3 linked regions of the Homo sapiens genome follow. The protein of the gene in region 3 purifies or fractionates together with the protein of the main gene of each other region. This does not show direct contact. Each region holds a gene or a part of one and is shown on either strand. Other genes may lie near its edges.

Region 1 (3,656 bases), on a different chromosome or scaffold from region 3:
CAGGACCTTTGTCATTTGAGACATGCTCTAACCTGGCACCAGTCTTGTGTCTTCTCTAGCCTCCCCTGACTGTCTGGCTTTTATGTCTGCACAGGAGCGTTCCTGGGTGCCTGTGTGGCTGGGTCTGATGAGCCTGGCCCAGAGGGCCTCACCTCCACCTCCCTGCTAGACCTCCTGCTGCCCACTGGCTTGGAGCCACTGGACTCAGAGGAGCCTAGTGAGACCATGGGCCTGGGAGCTGGGCTGGGAGCCCCTGGCTCAGGCTTCCCCAGCGAAGAGAATGAAGAGTCTCGGATTCTGCAGCCACCACAGTACTTCTGGGAAGAGGAGGAAGAGCTGAATGACTCAAGTCTGGACCTGGGACCCACTGCAGGTAGCTCTTCTTACCTACAGAGCATGTGTTGAGTGCCAGCCAAGTGTCTAGGCAAAACACCAGGTGACCATTTCCTTGCCAGAAGCATCTCTTCTCTCTCCCTACAGTTTTTACCATGCTGCTGCTGTTTACCTGCACATCAGAGCAAAGGCTCTGGGACCCTGAATGTCTCACAGGCCCAGGAGGCCCTTTCTCTTTAATACTAACCACTGTTTAGGGAGCCTTTATTCTGTGCTCATTTAATTCAATCTGATGCTTATAACCTGAGAGATAAGTAATATGACCCCCCTTGTAGACAAGAAAACACTGAGACTGAGAGGTTAAAAGCTGGCCTGAGGTCAAACAGCAGCTCAGATGCTCAGTCATGATTCAGACCTATGGCTTTCCAAGCCCTGGGGCTCATTGTTTTGTTTTTCCCTACTGCTCTATGCTGTCTCTGTTGAAGATTGCCACAAGGTCAGCTGATCCATGTTTCCTTGAGTCTATCCGACCAGCAATTGAGGCATTCTAACCGCCCTTCCCTCAGTCATGCACCAGAGCTAGAGCTGGTGTTTGGATCTACAGAGCCCAGCTGGTGAACATTTGGGTCCCGAAGAAAGCCCGAGGCCTAGGGCTCCAGGTTTGAATGCCCACCGCCATGAGCTGACATTGATACAGATGCAGGCATGGCCCCTCCACCAATGTCCTGGGCCAGCAGGGCCCCATCTCTTAGTAGGGACTGAGGAATTGGTGTGATTGTGTGTGCACATGGGGCAAGGTGTTACAGAACTTAACCTTTAATTTTTCTTTTTAAAATAGGTAATATTTATTGGATTTACCTTTTCTAATTATAAAAGAACACATGAACATTGTAGAAAATCTGAAACACACAAAAATAATACAAAGAAGAAAATAAGGCTGGGTGTGGTGGCTCACGTCTGTAATCCCAGCACTTTGGGAGGCTGAGGCGGGTGGATCACTTGGGGTCAGGAGTTTGAGAACAGCCTGGCCAACATGGTGAAACCCTGTCTCCACTAAAAATACAAAAATTAGCTGGACATGATTGCGGGCATCTGTAATCCCATCTACTCAGGAGGCTGAGGCAGGAGAATGGCTTGAACCCGGGAGGTGGAGGTTGCAGTGAGCTGAGATCGCACCACTGCTCTCCAGCCTGGGCGACAAGAACAAAACTCTATCTCAAAAAAAAATAAAATAAAATAAAAAATAAAAACTACCTATAACCTGATAATTGAAAGATAATTACTATTAGTAGTTTGGGGATACATTGTTCTAGTCACTTTATGTGCAAAATTGGAATCATAGGGACATTTTGTTTTCACTCAAAATATTTCATAAGTATATTTCCGCATTGTTAAATATCCATTTATAACCTGATTTTTAAACATGTTATTATTTATTTATTTTTTTGAGATGGAGTCTTGCTCTGTCACCTGGGCTAGAGTGCAGTGGCGTGACCTTGGCTCACTGTAACCTTCATTTCCTGAGTTCAAGTGATTCTCCTGCCTCAGCCTCCGAGTAGCTGGGATTACAGGCATGCGCCATCACACCCAGCTAATTTTTGTATTTTTAGTAAAGACAGGGTTTCACCATGTTGGCCAGGCTGGTCTCTAACTCCTGACCTCAAGTGATCTGCCCGTCTCGGCCTCCCAAAGTGCTGGGATTACAGGTCTGAGCCACCGCACCCGGACAACATGTTATTATTTATTTATTTATGTTTAGAGTTGAGGTTTTGCTCCATTGTTCAGGTGTGATCATAGTTCACTGTAACCTCGAACTCCTGGGCTCAAGCGATCCTCCCACCTCAGCCTCGTAGGTAGCAGGGACCAAAAATGTGCCACCATGCCTGACTAATTTTTTCATTTTTTTGTAGTGATGGGGTCTTGCTATGTTGCCCAGGCTGGTCTTGAACTCCTGGGCTCAAGCGATCCTCCTCCCTTGGCCTCCCAAAGTGCTAAGATTATAGCTGTGAACCACTGTGCCTGGCTTATAACTTGATTTTTTTTTCTTGAGACGGAGTTTTGCTCTTGTTGCCCAGGCTGGAGTGCAGTGGTGCCATCTTGGCTCACCACAACCTCCGCCTCCCAGGTTCAAGCGGTTGTCCTGCCTCAGCCTCCTGAGTAGCTGGGATCATAGGCATGTGCCACCATGCCCGAATAATTTTGTATTTTTTTTAGTAGAGACAGGGTTTCTCCATGTTGGTCAGGCTAGTCTCGAACTCCTGACCTCAGGTGATGTGCCCACCTCGGCCTCCCAAAGTGCTGGGATTACAGGCATGAGCCACCGTGCCCAGCCCTGATTTTTAACAACTACGTTATATTTCATCATGTGGGTCATCAGGTGTATTAAACTGGTTCCCTACTGTTGAATACTTAGGTTGTCTTCAGTTTTAATTCTGCTACAAATATCCTTACACATTTTCGCACCTTCCTGGTGGTTTCCTTAGGATAAATTTCTAGAATAAAATTGATAGGTCAAAAGATGTATTAGGGCCGGGCACGTGGCTCACGCCTGTGATTCCGGCACTTTGGGAGTTCGAGGTGGGCAGATCATGAGGTCCGGAGTTCGAGACCAGCCTGGCCAACATGGTGTAACTCCGTCTCTACTAAAAATACAAAAATTAGCCAGGTGTGGTGGCGGACGCCTGTGAACCTAGCTACTCAGGAGGCTGAGGCAGGAGAGTTGCTTGAACCTGGGAGGTGGAGGTTGCAGTGAGCTGAGATTGCACCACTGCACTCCAGCCTGGGGGACAGAGCGAGACTCCATCTCAGAAAAAAAAAAAAAAAAAGATGTATCAGTCAGCATCCCACGCGGAAACAGAAGACACAATCAAATTAAAACAATCTAAGGAGAGTTTGTTTATGAAGCAGCAGATTTATGAAGGTATGGGCTGGATACAGGTGAACTACCAAAGGACTCACAAGTCCTTTGGCTAAGGATCTGTGGCTAGCAACAGCTGAGTGCTTACCATCTCTAGGCACAGTGAGACCAGGGAAGGGATGAAGATGGGAGCCTGCAGGGAAAGTGGTGTAGAGAGGTGGCCAGATATGGGAGGAGACGAAGAGAATGAACGCCGCACCCCCCACCAAGTGTTCTCTCTTTCCCTTGTCAGTTTGATAGGAAAAATTATAATGGCCTTTGATTACTAGTATATTTTAACTCATATATGTACAAAACATATGTGTACGTTCATTATATACAGAATATGTGTATTCTATAGAATATACATATACACAAAAATAGTGACCACTTATCACTCTTCTTTTTTATTTGAAGCACAGTGTAG
Region 2 (3,756 bases), on a different chromosome or scaffold from region 3:
TCTATAATATTCAACTCTAATTTCATCTTATTCAGGAAACCCTCTCATGCCCACCCTCTTGTCAGATGAGTTTTTTTTTTTTTTGCTCTGTCAGTCCCCTAGCACATTAAGAGTACGCCATTATAAGACTTATCAGTTTTCCTCTTAGCAGTTAGTTATCCGTTCAAAAGACTGTAAGCTTATGAATGATAGAGTCTAAAAACCTTCTGTCCTTAGCACAGGGCCACTGCCTGTGGCAAGTGCTCAAAATTTTGAGTTCAGACACTCATCGACTTGGTAGTGTGAAAGGTGTCTGCTACAAACTTATTAACTTTCCAGAGCTTCAGGCTCTGGAAACTATTGATGGAGAGAGGTGAAGATAAGAAAGACACCTATCTTGAGTTTTAGTAGGCAGAACACTCTAGAGAATCATTTGACTGGTTTTCTCACTCTGTAATTTTCAGACCATTTATATCAAATTAATTTGTGGTGCTTGTTAAAGATGCAGATTTCTTGACCCCACAGACTTATTGAATTGGGATCTCTAGGGGATGCCTGGGCATCTGCATTTTTAATGTGCATATAGGTTTATTGATTTACAAATCAAACTCATATTTCTTTTACTGGCATGACAATCACCGTAATTCAGTGTAATTCTCAAAAGTGTGGTGCAGGAACTCCTGGGTGTCCCTGACACTGTTTCAAAACAATTTACATAATATTAGGACATATCCCTTTTTCACTCACATTCTCACACAATATGGCACAATTTTCTAAAAGTTACATGATGATTGATATTGTAAGAGAATGAAGGTAGAAGTTACGAAAATCTAGCTGTCTTTTATTCAGCCAGACATTAAAGAGATTTGTAACAATGTAAAACAATGCCATTCTCAATAATTTTTCATTTTGGAAAATATCCTTTACAGAAATGCTATCTATGTTAACATATAATGAGTTTATTTTAAAATGAATAACCTTTGTTGAAAGTTGTTTTCTAAAATAGTAAATATTGATAGCTATTATAAACAAAAACCCTTTGAAGTTCTCAATACATTTTAAAAGTATAAAGAAATTCTAAGATCAAAAAGTTTGAGAACTGCTGCTATAATTATCAGCAGCATTTAAAAAATAAGTGGCTTCCCAAGATTCCATACTTTAGCCCCAAATTCTATGCATTTTCCATTACAACAGAAAATCAGAGGAAATGATCCATTTTATATTTAAGCAGGGGTTTTTTTGTTGTTGTTTTTTGGAATTTTAACAAGCTTCCAGGTGATATTGATGAACCTAAATTTAGAGAACCACTGTCAAAAGCAAAGGAAAATATCTGAAGAGTTTTAGAAGTGACAATTACTCTTATCTGGGAATTAAGATGATAATTCCGAGGGCATTAAATGGAGTTGGAAAACATGAGTTCTTAAAGGCTAAGTCCCTTCACCTCTCTGGGATTCAGTTTTTCTTATCTGTACAATAAGATTGATTTTAATATTTTACTAGCTCTGTCAGTCTGGATTTCATGCATTTTCACTGCTCGAGGGCAACAGAAGAGTTGCATCTTTCTGATGAGGTCCCAGGAGTAATCTTAGAGTCATAAATCAGATCATGTCATTCATCTGCTTAGAAACCTTCAATGGTTTTCCACTGGATTCCAAACAAAAATCAAACTCTTTATCCTTGCTCATAAGCCTTACAAGATTTGGGCTCAAGTCCCTGGCCTCATCTCTCTCCATTCTCACCTTGCTCCTTTTGCTCTAGCCAGTGGCCTTTGTCTTTTCCTTGACTTTGCTAAGTTTGTTCCCACTATATGGCCTTTGCACGCGCTATTCTCTCTGCCTGGAATGCTCTATTCCAGATTTTCATACGGCTTATTACTCTCCCACTTCGTTCCATCACATTATCCAGTCTAAATTTCTTTACAGCACTTACTACCACCTTAGATAATCCCGTTTGTTGACTTGTTTATAATCTGCTTTTCGCACTGCTTGAGAGCAGGGCCCTTCCGTTCGTTGACTGATGTGTCCCTGGAGCCCAGGGCAGTGCCTGGCAGGTATCTGGCTCTCAGTAAGTGTTCGATGACCGAACTCCCACACCCAGGCCAGACTTTCAAAAGAATGGCAAACATTTTCGCCTCCTGCACTCCCGACCCCAAGCCACAGGCTACGACTCACGCCTCGGCGCTCCTAGTAGTCCCCTCGCAGCGACCCCAACCAAGCCGTCACCTACCCGACCGCCGTCTAGCTCCTTCCGGCCTCAGCGGCGGCTTAACTCGGAAGTTTTCTCGGACACACCGGCACGCCTCTGCGCTGAAGGAGCACTTCCGGGGCAGTAGGAACGCCGAGTCGGCTGCCGTGGCTGTGCTGAGGGTGGCGGCCGGATAGGTGCGGAGCTTCCTGAACGAGGCAGGAGGGGTGCGAGGTTCAGGGGCAGGGCCCGGGCAGCCGAAGTCGTTAGGGAGGCGGTGACCTGACGGTGGGCGGCGGACATCTCGCGGCAGGGTCGAGGGCTGTGAAAGCGGTTTAGTGATTGAAGCGCTACGTTTGTGTGAGGAATTCTTGTCGTTGTCAGCGCCTGAGAACTTAGTTGGGAGCGGACGTTTACGTCGAATCTCTCGTTTGGGACCCCATTCTTGAATGTGGGAAGAAGTGAGAGCGCATGTTTGCTCATCTAGAGACAGCCGTATTAATAACGATAGGATACAAACCATCACCCCACCAAGTGATAGCAGCTGTTAACCTGTGGGCGGTTACGTGCCGGTCACTGTTCCAAGCCCCTCACATATCGCGTCACTGAATCTTTATAGGGACCCAGAACTCCATTTGACAGATGAGGAAACGGAGAGGCAGACAGGTGACCTGACTTCCCCACAATCGCTGCAGGACAGGAAGAAAGTAAACTCCAGAGCCCGTGCTCTTAGCTACTAAGCTGTACTGCTCTTCATTTTGGTAAATGGGGCGGGTGGAGTGTATATATACGTAATATATATGTGTGTGTGTAAGCGTATGCGTTTTTATTTCTTAAAAATATGGCTCAGCCGTATTTATTTACAGTTATTGGAATCTTTCTCCTCCAACTGAGAAAATAACTGGAGGAGAAACTACAATTATTTCTACACGCTTACTACACAATGCCTGGAAGACTTACAAAAACACTAAATAGTGCAGTTCCACGTACTTGGTGTTTATTCCTTTTTTTTTTTTAACCTTTCTCCTAGATTATGAATGAGTTGAGGAAAGAGATGGTACAGTCATTCTAATAACGATAGTAATGATAATATAAACAACCATCACCATAAAAAATTCTCTTCTGGCTTAGCTCAAATATCTGGCACAAATGAAAGAATAGAGATAACCAGTGTTTAATATTTTAGTAAAGGGACTGTTTTGGCAGGGCATGGTGGCTCACGCCTGTAATTTTAGCACTTTGGGAGGCTGAGGCAGGGGAAGATTGCTTGAGGCCAGGCCTAGGGTTCAAGACCAACCTGGCCAACATAGCGAGACCCTGTCTTTAAAAATATATTTTGGAGTATGTCCTTCCAGTCTTTCATGGAATTATATGAATTTATGTAATATGTATATTATATATTCTACATATAGTATACTGTATATATTTATGATGATGATAATGATGCGTTGCAACCTGGAGAGAGCATAAGGAAAAGATAGGAAACATTTATTCATATACACAAAACATTAATTGAACTTTGTGCAAAAACTGTCTCGTCTTTCCTATTAGATAGGCCCTTGGAGTGAATGGCTTACATTAGTTCTCTATCTC
Region 3 (2,874 bases):
AAATCTGAAAATTAGCTGGGTGGGATGGCTCATGCCTGTGGTCCCAGCAGTATGGGAGGCTGAAGCAGGAGGATCGTTTCAGCTTAGGAGTTCAAGGCTGTAGTGGGCTGCGTTCACACCTCTGTACTCCAGCCTGGACAACAGAGCAAGACCCTGACTCAAAAAAAAAAAGACCCACAAAAAAAGCCCCCACCAAATCTATTGCAACATCAGTCAAAATTTTAGTTCTACTTATTAAATACAATTTTATTCTTATAGCAAGTATTTTAAAATTGTTATCTGTTTTTTTAAATATGTAAAATATCTTCTTGTCGAAGCGACAGGTGCTTTGAATTGTTACCTTTATGTTTGTTGAAACTATGAAGAAGAGATTAGGAAGACTTTAGGTTTAAAATGGAAGACAGATTACATATATTATATTCTTGTAAAACTATGAAAATAAAAATAAAGGAGTAAAAGTCAAAAAAATAGCTACCTATTTAATTCAGTTTCATGATCATAATAGAAGGGATAGTCTGAAAACAGAGTTGCAAATAAGTTTATAATTTGTAAAGATCTGATAAAAATTATCAGATGATAAGAATTTACAACCATATCATCACTGAGAATGGAGGAGAAAAAGAAAGATTTCCATATTACATTTATTTAGAAACATGTTTGGTGTGTCTATTTTAAAGTAAAATTAAAAAAAGTACACACACAATTTTTTTTTTTTTTTTGCATTCAGTGTTAAAGTGTTTATCAGAAAGAACTACTTGTGTCTGGGCTCAGTGGCTCATGCTATAATCCCAGCACTTTGAGAGGCTGAGGGGGGCAGATCACCTGAGGTCCGTAGTTCGAGACCAGCCTGGCCAACAGGGTGAAACCCCGTCTCTACTAAAAATACAAAAATTAGCCGGGCGTGGTGGCTCATGCCTGTAATCCCAGCTACTCAGGAGGCTGAGGCAGGGGAATCGCTTGAGCCTGGGAGATCGAGGTTGCAGTGAGCCGGGATCGCACCACTACACTCCAGCCTGGGAGATAGAGTGAGACTCTGTCTCAAAAAAACAAACAAACAAACAAAGAATTACTTGCACTGTGCTCACATAATTTATACAGTCAGTTCTGCTATATCAGGTTGTTTGAAAACCGTACTTTATTCCAATGCAAATGATGTATTAGGGAAGAATTTCAGTGTAATGTGAATTGCACGTTTGCTTATGAGTAACTTAGTCTGTGAGAAATGGTGAATGCAGAAAACTGCCTCACAAATGATTATACTACCTCTCAAATAATTTCCAACAACTCTTCTTCCTCCACTGCGTAGTAATCCACAAGCTGCTACTCTTCTAACTCCCGGGGATCCATGCCCTCCCCTCTGTTTAATTCCCCCAATTTCCTCTTATTTTCCATTTTTCCTCTCTGTTCTTTGCTTATCTCTCTTTTCTCCCTCACTTTTCTTCTCTCCCTCTCACACATAGAGGAGGGGGTGTTAGAACCAGGTGGGCTGGTGGTAGGATCATAGGTCCACAATCTCACGAGCAAAGGCTCACTGCAGCTTCAGATTCCTGGGCTCAAGTGATCCTCCTGCCTAGGCCTCCCAAAGTGTTGGGATTATAGATGTGAGCTGCTGTGCCCAGCCCTATCTTTTAAAAAATATGTACTGAAAAAAAATTTTTTTTTTTTGAGACGGAGTCTTGCTCTGTTGCCAAGACTGGAATGCAGAGGCGCGATCTCCGCTCATTGCAGGCTCCGCCTCCACTTGACTCAGGGAACACACAGCAGTGGGAGCCAAGGCTGTCAGCGATCGAGGACCACAGGTGAACAACTCTGCGCCGCCGTGGTATCACCTCTAGGTGGATCTTCTGCCTTTAGGAAGGAGACAAAAGAGTGCAGAACCCTGGGTCAGATCAGCTCAGGATTGACCCCTCCGTGATCTCTCAGGACTCAGATCCCACCTCTCTCTCAGGGAGAGATCAGCCGCTATTGTTCACATTCTGCCTCTCTGTCATCTAGTTTATGATTGTTCACTTTCCGTTACTTCATCATTAGTTAGACCCAGACCCCAGCAGAGATTTTAGGGGTTCAGAGCCAAGGAAGGCAAAGTATCAGTGGGAACACAGTGGGAAGGCCCACAGCGGGGGCAAGAGTCTTCCAGCTGTGGGCAAGGGTATCCCTGCGGCAGGTCCAGAGCACTGAGGGTGGGGCTTGGCACGACGCCATTTGCCAGGATTCCTGTGTCAGGGGTGAACCAGAAACCCAGGTGTCAAAGGAATCCCACCTTCTAGTCCTTGCTGTCCTCACAGAGTGTCTAGGGTTCACTTTCAGCCTTCCCTTCTGCTCACAATCCCCTCTCCCACGGTCTGTGTGGCCCTGCCTCCAGCCTGCTTTGTTGGAGCCCAGGCAGCCTTCTTCATTATGTCCTCCTAGGAATTAAACCTAGAGACCCCTCAACCTTTGGCATGTGATATACTTTCCCATGGTCAGATGGTCAGATCATCAAGCTGCTGCCCCACCCAAAATTGTGTCTTGCCCACCCTCTGTGTTTCTGTCCATCAGACCACCCATCACATAGGCAACCCCTGGAGAGTGACCCTGGTTTAAAGCCCGACTTTGCCAAACCGCTGTGGATGCATTAATTTGGAAAGGTCCCTGTTCACCTCAGGGCCCACTTGCAAAGCAGAGACAGTCCCCGAGACTCATTCAGCCTTTGCCTTTCTCCTGTTGGCCAGGGACAGAGAGGGCTCAACTTGACCCAGAGCTAAGCCTCTCAGGTCGTGAATGCCCAGGCGATAAATGAAATTCACCTCATCTTATGTCTATGGTGAGATTTGGCAGGGGTCTTGGGGAGACTTAGCAACCTCATTTCTCCCTGTCCTCATACAGGACAAGCCC

Evidence for each region.
Region 1: the proteins of RAET1E (region 3) and PODXL2 purify together in Homo sapiens (affinity purification with mass spectrometry; 2 studies listed by BioGRID and IntAct, with this or other methods). This does not show direct contact.
Region 2: the proteins of RAET1E (region 3) and MFAP3 purify together in Homo sapiens (affinity purification with mass spectrometry; 2 studies listed by BioGRID and IntAct, with this or other methods). This does not show direct contact.

Annotation. Positions count from the first base shown.
Region 1 is NC_000003.12:127,639,151-127,642,806, forward strand, and holds part of PODXL2 (podocalyxin-like protein 2 precursor), read left to right. Parts: intron 1-94; coding exon 95-373; intron 374-3,656. UniProt on the Homo sapiens protein: Acts as a ligand for vascular selectins. Mediates rapid rolling of leukocytes over vascular surfaces through high affinity divalent cation-dependent interactions with E-, P- and L-selectins.
Region 2 is NC_000005.10:154,037,461-154,041,216, reverse strand, and holds the start of MFAP3 (microfibril-associated glycoprotein 3 isoform 1 precursor), read right to left. Parts: upstream 2,251-3,756; 5' UTR 2,206-2,250; exon of another isoform or gene 1,909-2,205; intron 1-1,908. UniProt on the Homo sapiens protein: Component of the elastin-associated microfibrils.
Region 3 is NC_000006.12:149,882,657-149,885,530, forward strand, and holds the end of RAET1E (retinoic acid early transcript 1E isoform 1 precursor), read right to left. Parts: 3' UTR 1,849-2,874; coding exon of another isoform or gene 1,832-1,848; 3' UTR 523-1,831; downstream 1-522. UniProt on the Homo sapiens protein: Binds and activates the KLRK1/NKG2D receptor, mediating natural killer cell cytotoxicity.